Homo sapiens: one gene and its partner. The protein of the gene in region 2 interacts with the protein of the main gene of each other region in a pairwise test. Each region holds a gene or a part of one and is shown on either strand. Other genes may lie near its edges.

Region 1 (7,027 bases), on a different chromosome or scaffold from region 2:
GAACAGATGTTTTTACAATAATATTTGTGAAATATGGAAACTACCTCCTTGGGAATTCTGGATTCATTTTACCTGATTCTAAGGCCTCATGACCTCCCAAATACATTCTACATTTCATTCTAACTAGAAAATAAAGTTCTGTGGATTTCTGGAGTGCTGTGCAAGAGATGACCAAACAAGCCACCTGGAGCTATTATTACTTCAGAAACACATCACAAAGATAAGACACAGCAAGAAATCCTGGCACAGATTTCTAGAACTGTTGTGACTCAACACCCACAGTGAAGGTATCATACTTTCTTTGAAGAAGAACAACAACCAAAGGCCTCACATAATTAGTACGAATAAACTTAAACGATCTGAAATACTTCTGGCCAACTCAAGTCAGTGAATTCAAGGAAGAAATGTAGTAAAGAAAACGAAATTCACTTCTTTTCTAAGAGTTGAAACTAACCATGTGTTTGAGACTCCTGCTTAGCTAGCCAATGCTTTCATTTATAAAGTAATTTGAATGGAGAAACTGAGATGAACCTAGTCATTCTTGAATGGTGAGTCAGAAAGATTGTATATACCCTGGATATTGCCACTGACTTTCTTTTTAAAAGGCAAGATAGACTATGTGTATGCTATGCCTCTAATCAACTAGTTTAATAGTCTGATGAAAACAGGAAAATAGGCTTCTGCAGCCTGATTTGTTCTTGGTGAACCTATGCAGCTCCTAAGGATCACTACATCCCTTCCGTTTCCAAGAGTTAATGAACTGTTTATAAAAATTTTTTTCTCTCACAGGGATTTGTGGAGATCATTAAGCTTAATATCTATAGTTCCTAGAAAGAAAGTCTAGGCTGGATGCAGTGGCTTACCCCTGTAATCCCAGCACTTTGGGAGGCTGAGGTGGGCGGATCACTCAACGTCAGCAGTTCGAGACCAGCCTGGCCAACATAGTGAAACCCAGTCTCTACTAAAAATACAAAAATTAGCTGGGTGTTGTGGCGGGCACCTGTAAAAAACATTTGTTAAATGATGAATGACCAAACAAATGAAGTAGGGTCTAGACTTTCTTTTTCTTTCTTTCTTTCTTTCTTTTTTTTTCTTTTTTTGGATGGAGTTTCACTCTGTTGCCTAGGCTGAAGTGCAGTGGCACGATCTTGGCTCACTGCAACCTCTGCCTCTTGGGCTCAAGCAATTCTCCTACCTCAGCCTCCTGAGTAGCTGGGACTACAGGTGTGTGCCACAGTGCCCCGCTATTTTTTTTTTTTTTGTATTTTTGGTAGAGACGGGGTTTCACCATGTTGCCCAGGCTGGTCACGAACTTCTGCCATGTTCTTAACTCTTCAAGGTAAATGACTTGTTCTTTGACACTTGTGAGGCAAACCTGAGCTTAGATAGTTAAATTTTTATTATAACATATCAAGTAATTTGTGAATTTATAATCAACACCTGATAAGATTTTTTTTTTGGCCATAACTCACCCCACTATGATTTACCTATCCCATCCTACCTCTTATTCTGTTCAGAGCAGTTTCCAGACTGACTCACTTCTTCAATGACAAGTCCTTTGTACAAAAGAGAGTCATCTTATTTTCATGATACACAGTGATGTTTAGTGTAGACTTATATATCCACTTGGCTGTTTAATAGCTACCTCAAATTTAACAAGCCTAACTAAACTCTTTCCCCATATTCCTCTACACTGCTTCTCTCCTTTGCTTCCTCATCTCAGAAATGGCAATTCTACCTGTTTAGTTCCTGAAGTCCAAAACCCTGGGGTCACTGATGCCTCTTCTCTGTCTGTCATATCCCTTATCTAATCAATCTGAAAAATCCTTCAGCCATTCCTTCAAAATCTCTCTAAAATCTGACCACTTCTCCCCACCCACACTGCTTCCATCCTGGTCTAAGCCACCATCATCTCTTGCCTGGATTATTGTAATACTCTCCTAAAGATTCTTCCTGCTTGTATCCTTTCTTCCTGCACCTATTTTCAATACAGCAGCCAGAGGAATGCTGTTAAAACATACATCAGATCCTGTCATTCCTCTGCTCAAAATCCTCCAGTGGTCCTCCATTTCATGCAGAATAAAAGCCAGAGTCCTTACCTTGGCCAACAAGGCTCTAGATTGGATTTTGCTTTCTTAACTCATCTCCTTCCCTCTTCCTCTTCTTACTCTGCTCCCAGCCACACTGATCTTTCTGGAACATACCAAACATTCTTCTGCTTCAGAGCCTTTGAATTTTCTGCTTCTTTTTTCCCCAGACATTTGCATAGCTCTTACTTCATTTCATTCAGGTCTCTTCCCAAATGTTCCCTTATCAGAGTACCTTCCTTGATCATCTTACAGCATACCCCATCACTCTCTCTCCCTGTTGCTCAGCTATATTTTTCTTCATACCACTTATCAAATTTAACCAACTTTATTTATTGTCTGCCTCTTTATGCTGGAAGTAAATCACTTTGAGGGCAACAGGACATATTTATTGAGGGTCTACTAGGTGCCAAGTCTGTTTCTAGGCAGTGGGAATATTAAAAAAAATCCTTATTGAATGTTTATTCAAGTACTATATAAACTGCTGTATTTACTTAGTAAATATTTGATGAGTGTATTGAATAAATATAGTATACGCTCATCAGAGTAACAAGAATGGTTCAAAGGAAAAGGAGATTTGGATTGACTTACCACTCTTTAACTCATTGGAGCATCTGCCACATCTAAAGAAATGGTTCTACAGACCACCAGGTGAAAAGTTGGAAATCTAATAAAATTCAAGGACCCCCAGGCATTCTATACTCCTAACTCTAAGGGACTCTTGGATTCCTCCAAGCTATACTGATTAAAGAAAAATGCCTGGACTGCATGAGAAACTTGGCATTGGCACCAAGAGACTAGAGTCTAGTGACTGACTAGAGTATCAGATCAGGAGGGAAGTATATAAGAAGTGCTAAAAATTAATGAGAGGCTTTGACCTTGACCAGAGAGAAAACTGTTTTGTATTAGGACAGAATAAACATTCTAAGGAAGATCGGTATCAGAGACGTTGGTAGCTGAATTTGGATAAAGTAGTTTTAGGGAAAGGAGGAAATTATTTTCTTTAAGAGAAAACTTCGGAGGTTAGATGAAGAGGTAAACCTTAGAAGCCATTAGACTTACCACTCAGAGAGGGAGGGAAGACCACGCCCACTATAGAAGGTGATATTGCTCTTACCACCTGTCTCCTCTCTTCCTTTGCAACCAGGGATTATGAAAAGTTTGATGGTTGTGGGAGTAGCCTCAGGGGAAAAGCTGAAGGTGGAGAGACTTACATGTATCAGAGGGTGAGATGATTAGGAGAGGAAAGGGTCCATGCTTCTTAGCTCCCTGCTTCCACATAGCCAGAAGACTTCTGGGAAACTGGCTACAAGTAGTAGGTGAATAATGGGTAACTTTTACTACATGGACTGCATTTCTTAGGCTTGAATTGGTCATCAATTGTATGCAAAATGACTTCTCTAGAGAATGGCCCCACTGGTCCAGTTCTCCATTCAAAGGCTCAATGCTGCTGCCACCTCCACTGACTAGAAAACCCTATCTTACTGCTCTGGCTCTTTTTTTTTTTTTTTTTGGTATTATTATGGGGTCCTTGTTCTGAGCTCTTTCTCAGATTTCAGCCAGTTATACTTCTTATTGCCCCTACTGACAAAGTCCTGGCTCCATCTCTTTAATAGCTTCCGCCCTCTAAAACTGCTTCCATCAGTGGCCCTTACTCACATCAACAAATGTCAGTTTAAAATTTTCATTTTCATCTGTATAAAGTCATATTGCTTTGTAACCCTCCAGACACATATTATTGGCAGATGTAGCCAGACACATGCTGTCTTTGAATCCAGATGCCTTTGCAGCAGCCCAGAGCTATGTATTCTACAAACCCCTGTGCCCAAAGGGGTAGCATTATGTCAATTGACAGAGTGATGCTGAAATATCAGAGCAATTCAAAGACCCTGCCCAGGAGCTAGCTCAACATTTTGTTATGCCCCACAGAATGCATTGCTAGTTAACTCAAAGCTATTACACCCAGAACAGGGATGGTTTCCATTGATACATCACTGCCTAGCTGAAGGGGCAGTCAACATCATCGACTTACATAACAATCACCAACAATGTTCCAGATAGTAGGCTAGATTCTAGGCTTATACAAAGAGAAATGAAATCTCTGCCCACAAGAAACTTATAAACTAGTTCTAGAAGGTCTAGTTCAGATTTGGGCATGGTAGTGGATACCAACATTGATAAAATTATCATTGGAATTAACACATCATGTAAGTGCTAGCAGGGTACAACACTGTCAATTCCAAGAATAGAACCAAATCCTCCTGTTGACCTTAATAGGTGTGGGACATCTCCGGGAGAGATGAGGCCCTTATAGAGGGTGATTTTGAGAGATACAAATGCTATCATGGCTCTCAGACATACTGAGAAAGGACTGAAGGTATCTGGAGTTGGAGGAGGGAGGATCCTTGTATAGTTAGTTCTATGTTAAAGGACTGATTGGTAGGTTAGGCTGCAGAAATAGTCTATGACCTTGGGTCTGTGGTGGACAGTATATAAGATGATGAAGCACACTTGAAAAGGTAGTGGTTTTTTTTTTTTGTTTTTTTTTTTTTGAGATGGAGTCTCGCACTGTCACCCAGGCTGGAGTGCAGTGGCACAGTCTCAGCTCACTGCAACCTCTACCTCCCAGTTTCAAGCGATTCTCCTGCCTTAGTCTCCCAAGCAGCTGGGACTAGGCCCGGCTAATTTTTTTTGTATTTTTAGTAGAGACAGGGTTTCACCATGTTGGCCAGGCTGGTTTTGAATTCCTCACCTCAAGTGATCTGCCCGCGTGGGCCTCCCAAAGTGCTAGGATTACAGGCGTGAGCCACCATGCCCTACCAAGAAGGTAGTTCTTAAAAGGATACTTTTACTAACAAATAATTCAGAAGTGATAAAGGATCAACTGAGTAGACTTACCATCTGCTCCTTCATTGCTTTTGCTTCTTTTATTGCGGCGAACACGCCTACTTTCTTCTTCAGAGTATGGCTTTTCATCAGGGAAGAAGAAATTCAATAGGGCCATCTGTAAAAATTACAAGTACATTAGTCAAAGGTTGACCCCACTCAGTCATAGCCAACATAAAAAACCAGCTTTCCATAGACAGTCTACCTGTACCTTAAGTTTGATGTGTCTAAAGCCTGAGCCCATCTTCCCCTCCACTGTACAAACCATTTTATTTTTGATACCATTATTATTCCAATCATGTAGGCATGACATTTTGGTTAATTTCTGAATCCCATTTCTTCCACCCTGAATATCTAATAAATAATCCATCAGGTCCCATTTCTTCATATATTTCTGGGATTCAGAGAGCCTAGCCACAAATTTCTAACTTCCCACACATACTGAGGATGCTCACTCAGAATTTGAGTTGAACAGAAAATTGAACAGAAAACCTTGAATTTGGCTGGGAGCAGTGGCTCACGCCTGTAATCCCAGCACTTTGGGAGGCCGAGGTGGGCGGATCACCTGAGGTCAGGAGTTCGAAACCAGCCTGACCAACATGGTGAAACCCCATCTCTACTAAAAATACAAAATTAGCCGGGTGTGGTGGTGGGGGGTGCCTATAATCCCAGCTACTGGGGAGGCTGAGGTAGGAGAATCGCCTGAACCTGGGAGGCAGAGGTTGCAGTGAGCTGAGGTCGCACCACTGCACTCCAGCCTGGGCAACAAGAGCAAAACTCTGTAAAAAAAAAAAAAAAAAAAGAAGAAAGAAAGAGAAAGAGAAAGAGAAAGAGAAAGAAAGAAAGAAAGAAAGAAAGAAAGAAAGAAAGAAAACCTTGAATTTGCTGCTCCCCATTGGACTTCATTATTACACATTCATGATTTTGCCACATTGCTATTTATGATGTAATTTTGGTTTGTTCCCAAAATGCTGTGCATCCAATACTGAGGTACTATTTGTCAATGCTCTTCTGGGAGTTAGTCATGACAAAGTACACAATTATTTTCTCCTCTTCTGAGATTCCTATAGCACTTGTGGTCTATAAGACTAATTTTGGTACCTGGTCCTCTACTGTCTTATAATGGTCTCTGATAATAATACAATATGTTTCATATGTGAATGGGTCTGGCTTCACTAATAATCATAGCTTAAATATATATTTGCTGAATTGAATCATAATCTTTTAGCATGAGTGCTTTACTGTGGTAAAACCATGTGCTTGAGGTAAACAGTAAACACGGTAGTAGGACTGAGTGATTCTAATGCCAACTCTGCCACTTACTAGCTGTATAACCTGGAACAAGTTACTTAAACTTTAGTTTCCTCATCAGTAAGTAGGGATAATAATAGTACTTTGCAGATAAAACAGTTGCAGAGTTAGAACAGTACTTAGCATGTAGCATGCACTTAATAAATGTTTGCTATTACTATTATTATTAAACTTAATCTTCAAAATAGAATGGTTAATTTGGGGCCTAAAATAGAACAAATGAATCTGCATTTTCATTCTATTATCAGTTCAAAAAATAAAAAATTCCAGAGTCCTCATGTCTGCTCCATCTCTGATTAAGTGGAAAAAAAATGGGTTGGACCCAAGAAAGCCCCAATATTCCACACAAATTTTCTTCAAAATTCTGTGATTTACCCAATATCCTTAAGGTGTAGGATTAGCATCTTGAAGGATACATGAATGTATTAAATATAAAATTAATAAATCAATGTGTAGGTAATTTCCATCTTGTCAACAGGACTGCATTTCAAAATAAACTGCCATTTTTGTCAAAAATGGTTGAATATCAATCAACAATTTCACATGGTTCAACTGAGTAGTATTTTTGAGTCACTTGATTGGAATGTAAAAATGCATTTTCTCATACAATCAACATAATAAAGTTTGGCTAGTTCTCCTGATAAGCCCACAGAAAGTTACTTAACTCACAATATAAATAAGCTAAGTACTAATAATAGTATAAAACTAAACTGCTGTTTACAATAAAATCTCAATCATTTGCA
Region 2 (7,307 bases):
CAAGTAATACTGGATCTACTAAGTTGTATGGCCCAAGTGGCAGAGCAGTTTGCTATTGAAGAACCTTTGCTTATTCAGGATCCCAATCAAAACTAGCAGCTTATTGGATTGCTCAGCAAATACATCAAAATGGTATGACCAAATGAAGTATATGTTGCAAGTGGTCCATCCATTGAGCATTGTGCAGCAAATATCCTTTATTTTGAAAGAGCTTTCTATGTATTACAGATCACTTAACCCCTAGACATTTCCCTGAGGAGACCCTGACATTTTATTGTGCTTATTTTTCCATCCTCTGGCATGCATTTGTCCTAACAATATATCTACTGTAGTTGCTACTTAGATCACTGTCTAATGAGCATATTATCAATGCAATGTCATAGTGTGATATTCTGTGAATGAGAAGGCAATCAAAGTTCCTGCAAATCAGATTATGACATAGAGCTGGGGAATTGATATAATTCTGAAATGGAGGTGTGTTGCTGACTCTGCCAGTTGAAAGCAAACTTCTTCTGATGATCTTTACCATAGGCATAAGTAGAAACAGCATTTGCCAGAACAGCTAACAGGTGCCACGAGATGTGTTGATGTGCTCCAGCGACAAAACCACAAGTGGAATAGCAGCAGCAGTTGGAGTCACCACATGATTAAATTTACAATAATCCACTGTTGTTCTCCAAGGTCCATCTTTCTTTTGCAAGGGCCAAGTTAATTGAGCGAAATGTGGCAGAAATCACTACTCAGCATCTTTCAAGTCTTTGATAGCACATCAGCCACTGAAGTCACTTTAGATTTATTATTTCTGTAGGTAAAAGCAGTTCTACTGGTTACACTTAGACTTTCCTGCCATAAAAGCCCTCATAATATGGGTCAGGAAACCAATATGGTGATTTTTCCATTTGCTGAGTACATTTATCCCAATTGTACATTCTAGAACTCAGTGATCTCACTACCTCTGGAAGGAGAACTAAAATTAGAATAGTGATAATGGGAAACTCGTTCCATATGTGTCTCTAATATTTGAATAAATTAATTATTTTACATTGGGCAGGTTCCTATGTTTTACTTGCATAATTTTATTTCTTATTTTCATTATTTATTTGTTTATTCATTTATTTTTAGAGATGGAGTTTCTCTCTTGTTGCCCAGGCTGGAGTGCAATGGCACGATCTCGGCTCACTGCAACGTCCGCCACTCGGGTTCAAGCCATTCTCCTGCCTCAGCCTTGCAAGTAGCTGGGATTAGAGGCATACACCACCATGCCCAGCTAATTTTGTATTTTTTAGTAAAGATGGGGTTTCATCATGTTAGTCAGGCTGGGTTCGAACTGCTGACCTCAGGTGAGGAGGCCTCCCAAAGTGCTGGGATTACAGGCATGAGCCACCGTGCCCAGCCATTACTTGCATATAATTTTAAAAACAACCTTCAAAATGTAAAATAACTACAACAATAACACCAAACCCCACAATATTGCATTAGAAAGAGTTTTTATTTAGATCATGAGACATAATAGTGCTTCGTACTCATGCTTATACAGAACCTAGCGCGAAAGAACATAATTCAAGACACTGTCAACCAAACTGCAAAATGTCTTCATAAATAAAAATCCAGGTTAATATTAGTATTATTATCCTACAAAAAACAAAGCTACTAATTTCCTCTCCAACACATATTTAAATAAACAGAAATCAACAATATTTGTAGCCTTTGTAATTCTAGTTTGTTTAGAATTTAGTTAAAAACTTATTTGTGGAGCTCTCCCTCTCTTTTGGCTGGCAGAACCATTTCTGACTTCAAGGCTTTTTATTAAAATATTCTACAATGAACACAGAAAGCTTGGTAGATACCATCTTTACACTTTTTTCTTCTTTGAATATATATTTGCTTGTGCACAGTAAGAATTATTAACATTTGCTTTTATATGTAGCTTAAGATGACAGCTCTACTGCATATTATATTGTAAACTGTGTTTCTCTCAACATTTTTCCTTCTTCATCTATAAATAGAAAACCACTGAATGATTGATTATATGTTTATTTAAGGGCATGCTCTAATGCCCACTGCTATATTCATTATTTCTTTGGTTTTCAGTTACAGAGTTTATGTTATGTTTAAATAGAACATTTTTCTGTAGGAATTGTGGGTTAGGACATGGATGATAACAGATATGCATATCTTACTCATGAAAGGTCTCTTTTATACGTGGCTTATAGAATATTACAAACTCATGTTGAAAAATATTTCAAAGCTTAAGAGGTTAAAAAATAATAATGAATTGGTTCCTGGAGCAAACTTACTTTTTGGAAAGTGATAGTAATAATTTAACATATAGATGAATGCAGTGTGTTCTGACTTGGCAGTTTTATTATTTATGAAATTAATTTTTCATTTAAAAATTATATATTAATAATTTATATGTTTTCCACAATGTAGGTAGAAATTATGTGTCCCTAGTATACACAGGAAGAAGGATAAGTATATAAACGTATACCATTTTAAACGTCTTAAATCTATTTACTTCTACAGCAATTGCCTTTTAGGTCTCATCCAGTCACAGACTATACTACACTTTTTGAGTTTATTTCCCTTCCCAGGAGCCACTTTTGTCATATGTAAAGCAGTTATACTAGTATTTACCTAACAGAATTGTCATGAAGAGTATATAAGCACAAATGTAAATCACTTAACATAGTACCTGCCAAGCAGTGGTTAATTAATGTTAGATTCCTTTTTAAGCTATAAAGGAAATTTAAAAACCTTTAATCCCTATGTTTTTCCAAAGCAAAATGTTTTATTTTTATTTTTTTCTTCATACCAAAGCAAAATATTTTAATTGTTCCAAAGTGTTCCTTACTTATAAAACTGTGGGAATTTCAGAAACATTCTGCTTTACAGTGCCCAGAGAAACTTCCTACATATAAACGCTGGTTTTGGTGTAAATGCATTCATTATTGGTGTTATCATTGGCCTTTACATAACCTAAGATTCGTGTGGCTCCGTTAAGACATAGGCAATATGACTCTGGGAGAGACTCTCACTAATGAACAGTAAGGGCAGCAAGCCTCAACTGTACTTAGAATTGGATACTACAATGTTTTGATAGTATTTTCATTACCGTCTTCAAGCAATTTCTTAACAATTGAGTTGTTAGCTAATTAGAAGTGCAGAACCAATACATGGCATCCTGTAAAAATAACCACGGGCTTAGTAACAAGCAAATAAAAAAATATAAAAACATTGGCTCTATAATGTGTCAATATGCTCTGGACTTATGTAATCAGTGACTCTTAACTCTTGCTCCAAAAGGAAGTTAACATTTGTAGAGTCTTAAAAGATTATATAAAAAAGAAAAGCAAAACAGAAAACAAAAAATCTTTTAGACCTTCTAGTCCATCCCTAATGACTAATTCTCCATCATATATTTTCATCTATTTGGATTGTAAATGTTGCCCAGACCAGAGATGGCGGTGGTTCACACTAGGGTGTCAGTGGTGGAATGGTGAGGGGCAGATGAATTGGAGATATTTTGGTAGTACAGCCAAAGAGACCTACTAATATTTTGGATGCAGAAGGTTAGTAAGGAGAGAAATCCAGACGACTTTAAGATTTTTGGCCAGAGGGATTTTACCTTTTAGCGACATACAGATGACCAAGGGAAGAGCAAAGTTGAGAGGATGAGTTATTCAAAATAGTATTATGGTCACGCCAAGCTATCAGCATTAAGGCATCCCTGTAGAGATGTCCTGTTGACATTTGTGATCCAGGCTGGATGTTTAAAAAAAATTGGTAACATATTACTTTAGCAACTATTATTAATTCTTATTATTACCACGACTACATCGGGAAGTAAAAGCTCAGCAGCCTCCGGCTTTTCCTAACCCTTGAAAAAACCTCTAATATAAAAGGCATTTATATCCAAAAGTTCCCATTCATCTCCCGCTCTGGGAACCGGGAGCGCCCCCTGTCCAATCAGCTTTCAAATCCCCTGCGTCAGCGAGTGGGCGGGGCTCACCTAGATTCCTTGGCCTCCGCTTCTCCGGCTTGGCCACGTTAGAAGTCCCGCAGGTCCTTGAAGGTACACAAATCACCTATATATCCATTAGAAAAATGTAGAGTACATTATCACAATGTAAGTTTAATTAGATTAAATAATTTACAACACTTTATTCATATCATTTATTTGTTTTATTTAGTTTCTTATTTTCTTCTATGAGTATAGTAACCACCTCCGAGCTTTACGGATCTGCGGGTCCTTTCCTCGCGCACGCGCACTTGTTAGGGAGGGCGGGCCTGTTTCCGGGAGGCGCGTGGGGCTTGAGGCCGAGAACGGCCCTTGCTGCCACCAACATGGAGACTTTGTACCGTGTCCCGTTCTTAGTGCTCGAATGTCCCAACCTGAAGCTGAAGAAGCCGCCCTGGTTGCACATGCCGTCGGCCATGACTGTGTATGCTCTGGTGGTGGTGTCTTACTTCCTCATCACCGGAGGTAACTCGGGCTGTCGGGCCCGAGAGGCTGAGGAGCGGAGAACTGACCCGCCCCGGGAGGCGCGTCTGTTCCGCTGACTCTCAGCCCCGGGGGAAGCATAGCTCTGCTTTGGATCTTTTCTGAGGGTGGAGGGGAGTTCTGGGGTCCGAAGTGTTAACGTCCAAGTTTATTCGCCTTCACGCCCTGTCTTAAGAGAATTCGTGTTCTCACTCCCATTGCCTTTCTTCTCCTTCTAGCCCTCCCATCCCAGGGATCCGAGTCAAATATATTTTTCAAGGCCAAATTGTTGCTCTTTTTGTTGCTTGCCATACGTTGTTTGATAAATGTCCTGGGAAAGCCTAATTTGGCAAACTCCGTTTCCATGGTTGGTTGTTTGATAAAGGTCCTGGGAAGGTCTAATTTGGCCAACTCCGCTTCCATGGTTGGTCAAGAGCTTGTGGGACTTTTAAACTTATCTTTGTCCTGGAATCTTGGAAGAGACTTGACAATCTTTAGTTTTGTTGGCTCAAACCTAGGGTTCTGTGTTGCCTTTTGCATGACCTACAATAAATATCAATGGAATTTTCTGAAATCACAGGTTTGATAAATATTTGAGATTGGAGATGAGATTTGCAGACGATACTGTATTTCAGTGGGCAGAAGTTGAGAATTAAAAAAATAAGATAAATAGCATTACTATTAAACGCTTCTGAATTGTCTATCATCTTATTCTGTCCTTTTCAAATAGAAAATTGCAAAGGGGCGTTGCCTTATGTACTGGTGAGTTGGCAATCCGGCTAGTCTTTTCAGAGCCACTACCCTTTCAGGCCACAGTTCCAAGATTTACTTAGAACTGTGCTACTGTGTACATTTAGATTTGGGGAAGTGGTGTACTTAACTTGGAAATTATAAAATTAATTTAGATTTTGGGAAGTGGTGTACTTAACCTGGAAATTATAAAATTAAAGCTACGGATTTGGGATAGCAAAAGTAGTTCTACTTTTAAGGGAGTGGCCATATAATTGTTATTTTCATAGATGTTTTGTGAGAATAGTTGGCACTGAAGGGGGAGGATTCAAACTGAGAGAGCTGAGTTCTAGAAAGCACCTTTGAATTTACCTCCTTCCCCCAATCTAGAATAGTGAGAATTAACTTACGTTCATTTAAATAAATTACATTTAAATATTTGAGTTACATTTAAATACTTATTTGGTAACAAGATACTATCTAGCATTGCATTAGCATTAACCATTAACATTTGCTCATCAAGTTAATAGCTACTGTACTGAATAAACAAAATTTAAAATGCATGTGGCTTTTAAAAATAATAGACTTTTAAAAATAAATAATATAGAATAATTCAGTATTATTATTGAGTGCTCGCTTCGGCAGCACATATACTAAAATTGGAATGATAGGGAGAAGATTACCATGGCCCCTGTGCAAGAATGACTCGCAAATTCGTGAAGCGTTCCATATTTTTGCACAGTTCACGAAGGTCGTTGGACAAAAAAAAAGTCATTATTCAATAATAATAATGAATAATGCTAGTTTCTTTCCTGTAACCCTTACTTCCCTTGGAGTCGGATTCTTTGCGAGAAGCCTCAGTTTTCTTTGTGGCCCTCTTTTTTCTCCTGTTGATTATTGTAATGGGGAGATTCTTTGTCCCAACCATTGGGGGAAAGTGGAAAGGTTGCTTTTTAGTGGCCAGGTCTATGAGGTATCTTGTATGATGAATTGGTTTTGCCACTGGAAGGGAAGAAGTCTCTTCTAAAAACTGAGTGCACCTTTATAAATAAACTATTTGTTGCTGACAAATAGTCAGCAAATAGATACTGAGTCCCGTTAAGTTTCAGGCACTAGGTACTGGAGATAATAGAACAAAACATAAGGACCCTGACCTCCTGAAGCTTATAATGTCATAGATGAGACATATTAAATGTCACTTAATTTTTTTGTCCGTTAAAAATGTTCACAAAAACAGGCCAGGCGCAGTGGCTCACGCCTGTAATCCAACACTTTGGGAGCCTGAGCCAGTTGGATCATTTGAGCCCAGGAGTTCGAGGCCAGCCTGGGCAACATGGCGAAACCCTGTCTCTACTGAAAATACAAAAAATTAACCAGGCGTGGTGGTACACGCCTGTAGTCCCAGCTACTTGTGAGGCTGAGGCAGGAGAATTGCTTGTACCCGGGAGGTGAAGGTTGCAGTGAGCCGAGATGGTGCCACTGCACTCCAGCCTGGGCAACAGAGCAAGGCCCTGTTTCAGAAACAAAAAACAAACCCCAAAATTAGCTGAGCCTGGTGGCGCACGCCTGTAGTCCCAAGTAGCTGGGACTATGGTGCAGGAGTTTGAAGTGGGAGGATCGCCTGAGCCTGGGAAGCTGAGGCTGCAGTAAGCTGTGATGGCACCACTGCACTCCAGCCAGGGTGACAGAGCAAGACCCGACCCTCTCTCAAAAAATAAAAACAAACAAACAATGGTTATAAATACAGTGAAAGAAAAGAACAAGAGGTTTTTGAGAAACTAAAGGGAGTTGGAAGCATCATCTGGATTGGATTCGATATGATTCCTGAGGAAATGATATGTAAGCCAAAATCTGAAGAGTTCGGGGAAAGGATATGCTAGGCAGAGGGAAACGTAGGGCAAATGTGAGACCAAAAGACCAATTAGGTGGCCTTTGTAGTTGACTTAGACTATACAAGGTTTATGGTAGTGGAGATTAGGATAATATAATGAAAGATATGTTGGAAGTAGATTCAGTAGGTCTTGAATTCACTGGGTGTAGGGGAAGAATGAAGTGGGAAGGAATCTTACAGGTTTCTGGTTTGAGCTCCTGAATA

The links.
Region 1: the proteins of OSTC (region 2) and EDA interact in binary tests that used the Homo sapiens proteins (3 or more experiments, as listed by UniProt).

Annotation. Positions count from the first base shown.
Region 1 is NC_000023.11:69,955,091-69,962,117, reverse strand, and holds part of EDA (ectodysplasin-A), read right to left. Parts: intron 5,092-7,027; coding exon 4,986-5,091; intron 1-4,985. UniProt on the Homo sapiens protein: Cytokine which is involved in epithelial-mesenchymal signaling during morphogenesis of ectodermal organs. Functions as a ligand activating the DEATH-domain containing receptors EDAR and EDA2R. May also play a role in cell adhesion.
Region 2 is NC_000004.12:108,646,309-108,653,615, forward strand, and holds the start of OSTC (oligosaccharyltransferase complex subunit OSTC), read left to right. Parts: upstream 1-4,290; 5' UTR 4,291-4,347; coding exon 4,348-4,486; intron 4,487-7,307. UniProt on the Homo sapiens protein: Subunit of STT3A-containing oligosaccharyl transferase (OST-A) complex that catalyzes the initial transfer of a defined glycan (Glc(3)Man(9)GlcNAc(2) in eukaryotes) from the lipid carrier dolichol-pyrophosphate to an asparagine residue within an Asn-X-Ser/Thr consensus motif in nascent polypeptide chains, the first step in protein N-glycosylation.